Regions from separate parts of the Homo sapiens genome. Here region 2 is linked to region 1. The links come from fine-mapping of genetic effects on gene expression. Tissue or cell type: skeletal muscle. Region 1 holds a variant in brackets; the other region holds the start of a gene. All regions are shown on one strand. Distances are from middle to middle.

What was found.
Region 2: OLFM1 starts here. The variant in region 1 is fine-mapped to the expression of OLFM1 in skeletal muscle (GTEx, PIP 0.92).

The regions. Positions count from the first base shown.
Region 1 is chr9:135,123,620-135,126,511 of GRCh38, forward strand. No RefSeq gene overlaps it. Among named protein-coding and RNA genes, the nearest start is that of OLFM1, 37 kb to the left of the region's middle. RefSeq lists an enhancer at 2,517-2,892. The variant C/T (reference allele first, on the strand shown) is at 1,211.
Region 2 is chr9:135,086,040-135,088,931 of GRCh38, forward strand. It overlaps OLFM1 (olfactomedin 1), which reads left to right and starts at 1,629. Exons shown (of 6, transcript NM_001282611.2): 1 at 1,629-2,100. The coding sequence starts at 1,951. RefSeq lists enhancers at 1-789, 790-1,650, 2,285-2,892.

The DNA.
Region 1 (2,892 bases):
TTATTCGCAATACACAGAGGCCAGAGCAAGAGACAGTTCTGTTTGCAGCTGGGTCTGAAATTCTCCTAATTTCCAGAGGGAAGCCTGTGACTGTTGGTCCCACAGCTCCCCATCGAATCCTCCCCTGGCCCTGTCAGAGCTGCAGGTGCTCAGGTAGCACTTGGTGGGGGAAACAGAAGATGTGGGCGGCTCTGCTCTCTGAACCAGTGAGCAGGAGGGGTTGGCTCTGGGTAGGCGGCTCTGGGTGAGGTGCTCTGTCTCAACAATCCTTGGGAAGTGCTGGGTGGACAGCCAGTGCCCAGCTCTGTTCTTGGAAGGGATCCAGAAATGAAAGGCACTGTTATTTCCATAGCTGAACACTCTGGAACAGCCAACAGTCAGCAAGCCAGGTGACGTCGGGGCAGGTACTGAGCACAAACGGGCCCATTGTCTCAGCCCGAGGGACTCTTCAACCCAGAAACCCTTAGGTCATCTAGTCGTAGTCCATAAAGCTGTGGAGTGTGAAAATGTTTTTTATTGGAACATTTCACCTAATTCCCTTTGAAAGCAGCAAGTGGGCTAGGCACAATGGCTCATGCCTGTAATCCCAGCACTTTGGGAGGCTGAGGCGGGCAGATCACAAGGTCAGGAGCTCGAGACCAGCCTGACCAACATGGTGAAACCTGGTCTGTACTAAAAATACAAAAATTAGCCGGGCGTGGTGCGGTATGCCTGTAATCCCAGCTACTCGGGAGGCTGAGGCAGGAGAATTGGTTGAACCCGGGAGGTGAAGTTTGCAGTGAGCTGAGATCGCACCACTACACTCCAGCCTGGGCAAGACAGCAAGCAAGCAAGCAAACAAGCGAGAGAGAGAGAGGAAGGAAGGAAGGAAGGAAGGAAGGAAGGAAGGAAGGAAGGAAGGAAGGAAGGAAGGAAAGAAGGAAGGAAGGAAGGAAGGAAGGGGCAGGGGAAGGGAAGAAAGGAAGGAAGGAAGGAAGGAAGGAAGAAAGAAAGAAAGAAAGAGAAAGGAAGAAAAGAAAGAAGAAAGAAAGAAAAAGGAAAGAAAGAAAAAGGAAAGAAAGAAAGAAGAAAGAAAGAAAGAAACAAAGAAAGAAAGAAAGAAAGAAAGAAAGAAAGAAAGGAAGGAAGGAAGGAAGGAAGAAAGAAAGGAAGTGGTGGCTTGGAGCAGATAATACCTGGATGCCACGCCCCCGGCAACCCTTGGACCTCA[C/T]CGCCCCGTTGAAGAGGCGTCATGCCCCATGCTAGATGGAAAAAAGTCAGGCTCTGAGACACCAGCAATTTCCCCGGGCCACTGGGCTTCCAACCCAGAGTCTACAAGATGAGCACAGCCCAACATGGAGAAGGGTCTAGGACAGCAGTTGAAGCTTGGAGATCAGCTGAGCCTGCGATTTGGGACAGCAGACAGTTCCTAGTGCTCAAGGGGGACCGGGAGGCAGAGGAATTGGGTCAGCTCCTGGTCCAGCCTCCTATAAGGCCTGGCCAGTGAGTAATTTTGCCTCTGTTTCCATCCTCAGGGGGGTGAGGTGGAAGGGAGCCATCATTCAGGGCAGCGGGGAGGACTGACTCTGTTTTCTGTGAACTTTCAGTTCCTATCTTCTGCCTATTGTTTTCTATTCAGTTGTTGGTCTTACTTTCTCAAATTTTGGGAGTTCTTTCTATGTGTGGAAAGTCAGCCTTTGTGATTCTGTGGTCTGAGGTGCACATATTGTCTAGTCTGTCATTTGTCTCCTGATGTTGGTTATGTGTTGTGTGTGTGTCTGTGTGTGTGTTTGAGTGTAGTCAGGGTTATCTATCATCCTTGTGATGCTTGTGGCTTCGGGGTTGGAGTTAGGGCCGCCTTCCCCAACGTGATCCCTGCTTCTCTTGGTTCTTGCAAAGTCTGTCTGTTTACCCTGGGGCTGTCCATGCCCTGGCTTTGATAGTGTGAAGTGTGGAACCAGTTTCATCTTCTTCCAAAGGCTGCTCCTTGGCCCCAATGCTATTTGTTAAATGGCCCAACTTGCTCCCCTGGACCCTTTGTCCTGGGGTCCATCCCTGGGCCCTCCTCTCCCTGGGTATGTGCTGGCCTCTGTGTCCAGAAGGCAAAAGGACCCATGGACTCACCTGAGCAGGGGATTTTTCACAGGCAACCACCTTGCACACTTCCTATATGGTTTTTTAATTCTTAATTTTTAAAATTATTTTTATTTTTATTATTATTTTTTTTGAGACAGGCTCTTGCTCTGTCGCCCAGACTGGAGTGCAGTCGTGCAATCCCGGCTCACTGCAACCTCCACCTCTTGGGTTCAAGCAATTCTGCCTCAGCCTCCTGAGTAGCTGGGATTACAGGCAAGCACCACCATGCCTGGCTAATTTTGTGTGTGTGTGTGTGTGTGTGTTTTGTTTTGTTTTTTGTTTTGTTTTTTTCTAGTTGAGACAGGGTTTCACCATGTTGGCCAGAATGATCTTGAACTCCTGACCTCAAGTGATCCATCTGCCTCGGGCTCCCAACGTGCTGGGATTACAGGTGTGAGCCACTGCACCTGGTCCCTGGATTGTTTTATAAAGTGATCTCTGAGTAGCTTATAAACCATGATGCTTAACCCCTGTGATTGTCAGGCCCTACTCCAGGAAGCATCTGGAAACCTGAGCACCATCTTTTGCCTTCACCAGTGTTGTTGGGTCAATAAAGACCATGGTGACTCCGGGGTGCTGTGTCTCTCGGACACAGTTCTTGTTGTTCTAAACCAAGTGCCTAACTCCAGAGACGCTGCCAGGATTCTAAGGCAAGGTGAGGTCTTGTCTTCGGAAGGATCTTTCAGGGAAACCCTCACCCCACAGGGTGCTGTGTGACCTCCGTCTTACAGAAATAGACACGGGGAGATTACGCAGCAGCCCAGGCCCACTGATGAG
Region 2 (2,892 bases), 38 kb before region 1:
CCCGCAGAACAAGTGGTCCTTGTCCTTCCGCAGCGGGAAGCGGCGTGAGTGATCTGGACAGACACGGCTTGTGGCCTTGAATCGGTGTTAAACATGCATGGCCAGAGGAGGGGGGCGAAGCCAGCCCAACCGGACTTGTGTCTCCGCCTGGGCCCAGTCTGTGAGCCGGGCCTGCAGTCCCAGCTTACACTGGGAGATGGCGCCCTTCCCCAACAGTTGGAATTTCCTGGCATCCGACCCAGCCCGGCTGCCTGAGATTACAGCATTAATCAGAAAAGCAGATCTGAGGGGCTCATTTAACTAGCGGGTCTCACACCCAGCACTCAGGCCAGGATCATCTTGGCTGCAGCTGAAGTCTCTTCAGCCGAGGACTGCGCACACAGAGAGAAAAGCCCCAGGAAGGCGTTGTTCCTCTCAGGCGGGCGCCAGGGAGGCGCGCTCCTTCCGGCCCGGCGTCCGTCTTTCAAATCCCATCCAGGAAGGGAGATTAATTTTCGCCCAGGCAGAGAAGAGTGTAGTGAGTGATCTGGAGGATTCTTTCCTTCCCAAATGGCTGGGAAAGCTTAATGGAAGGCCCCGGAGGAAGTGGCTTTCATCTCCGATTAGAAGCCTTCTGTAAATGCAAAAGCCCTATTAACGTGTTTGACCCAGTCAGGCCTGCGCTTCAGGTGGGACTGACACGCGTGAGTCCTGCTGCGGTCGCCGCAGAGGGCCGGGAAGAGGGGCAGCGTGCGCCACTTGCCCTGCCTCTGTGCCTGGGCGCCATGACTCGAGCGCCACCCCTGAGTCAGTAAGGACACCCCCCAACCCACACCCCTCCACCACAGACCCCAGTCCCCGCCCCACACACCCACCTCCCCAACACCAGGTTCATGGGCGTGGTCCCTTCAGCTCCTGAGGTCCAGGCCTGAGCCCCAGACCTTATGCAGCTCCTGCCGGGTGTGCGCCCTCCCAGGGCCCTCACTGCGCACCGCGGGCCACGGCAGACCACCCCAGCCCCCGCCTTGCTGTGCAGGTGTCAGGAGTGCCGGTTGGCTCCCTTCCTCCCAAGCAAGGCCTTAGGGCACCGCGGCTGCCCTGGGATCGCAGGGGCGCCTTTAGCTCTCCACCGATGCCCCGACGCCCCCCTGGCGCTGGAGGCCCTCGCGAGTCTGGCTGCTTTTCGGAGCCTGCCCTGCCTGCTGGGTTTCAGGCGACGGCCCAGGCTGGCTGGGACCCTCGAATCACCGCGGAAAAGGGCTCCAGTAGGCAGGACGGCGCCGTCTCTCTGCCGGCAACCTTTGCCCCAAAGCGGACCCTCTGCGGGGATCGGAGAGGGATGCCCCGGCGTGAGGATGGGAGAAGCCCCGGGACGGGAGGGCCGCGGGCCGTGCCCCCAGCTGGAGTCCCCGCGCCGCCGCCGGGTATTTTATGATCTGGGGGTGGTGGTGTGTCCGTCTCCTCATGTCACCCTGATCCCAACTCCTGGGCGGACTGGAGTTTGCAGACCTCGCTGCCAGCAGCCAGGGGGCGGCGGGGAGCCGAGCGAGAGGAAAAATCCACCCATTTCCTGGGCGGATTGCGTCGGTCCCGCCCGGCCGAGCCCCGCCTCCCGGCCGCGGCCCCCGCGCGCAGCCCGCGCAGCGCTCAGAGCCGGACGGCGCTTCCCGGTGGCGGCGGAGGAGCCCGGAGGGACGCAGCCGGGCAAGGCAGGGCGCAGGGCGGGCGGCGCGAGGCGCAGGGCGCGGCGGGCAGAGGCCACCTGGCCACCTTCCCTGGCGCCCGGGGAAGGCGCGGCGATGGCCGGGGCGCGCGGGGCGGCGGCGGCGGCGGGCGGGCGGCGGCGGGCCGAGGGGGCGCGGGGACACAGCCAGGCGCCCCTGCCCGCCGCGGTGCCCGCCGCCTGAAGGCCGCCTGGGCGCGGGAGCCGGTGCCAGCTCGGAGCGGGCGCTGGAGGCAGCTCGAGGCGCGATGTCGGTGCCGCTGCTCAAGATCGGGGTCGTGCTGAGCACCATGGCCATGATCACTAACTGGATGTCCCAGACGCTGCCCTCGCTGGTGGGCCTCAACACCACCAAGCTCTCGGCGGCCGGCGGCGGGACGCTGGACCGCAGCACCGGCGTAAGTGCGCCCGCCGGCCGCCTTGGCGCGGCTCCTCCTCCTCCTCCTCCTCCCCCTCCTCGGTCCGGAGCCCCGGGCTGGGCGGGCGCCGCGCGGGACCCGAGTCGCCCAGGGAGGCGGCGGGGAGCAGGGCGGGCAAGGGCAGGCGTCGCGGGCCGGCGCAGCGGTGGCGACCCTGCTCCCCGCTCCCCCAGCCTGGGCCACTCCATCTCCGCCCGCGCGCCCCTGGGGCGGCGTTTCCTTCGTCTGGGCCCCTCGCCGCGGGGCCGGGGGAGCTTGGTGGGTTCTCGGAGGCTTGGAGTCCTGGGTCAGTAATCATGAGCCCCCCATTGAAAAGGTTAGGAAACTAAGGCTGGGGACTTGGGGACTTGTCCAAGGTCACACTCAGCGAGTGAGGGGTGGAGCCGCCGCTAGACCCTAGTCTGGGCTCGGTCCAGCGGGGACTGAGCCCGCCCTAGTTTGTAAAAGCCAGACTGGCCGGACCGGGCTGGGAGTGGGGCCCCAGCCGGTGGGCTCCGGAGCTCCTGCCCGCGCCTGCATTCCCAAAGTCCCAAGGCGCCCTTTCCTCCCCAGTCCATAGGAGGGTTTGTTCCTTCTCCTCCGAGGACGGTGCCGAGGGGCTTGGGTGGGGCCCCTGGGAGCCTGCCCTTGGGCGCTCACCCCCTCGCCTTTGCCTTCGTCTTCTGCGCGCACCCCTCCCTCCTGGCCTCTGAAATTGAAATCGCGTCTCCCTCTCGAGCCTAGCGGGAGGGGAACCGTGGCCGGGGCTGCTTCTGGGCAGAGCTGACTTAG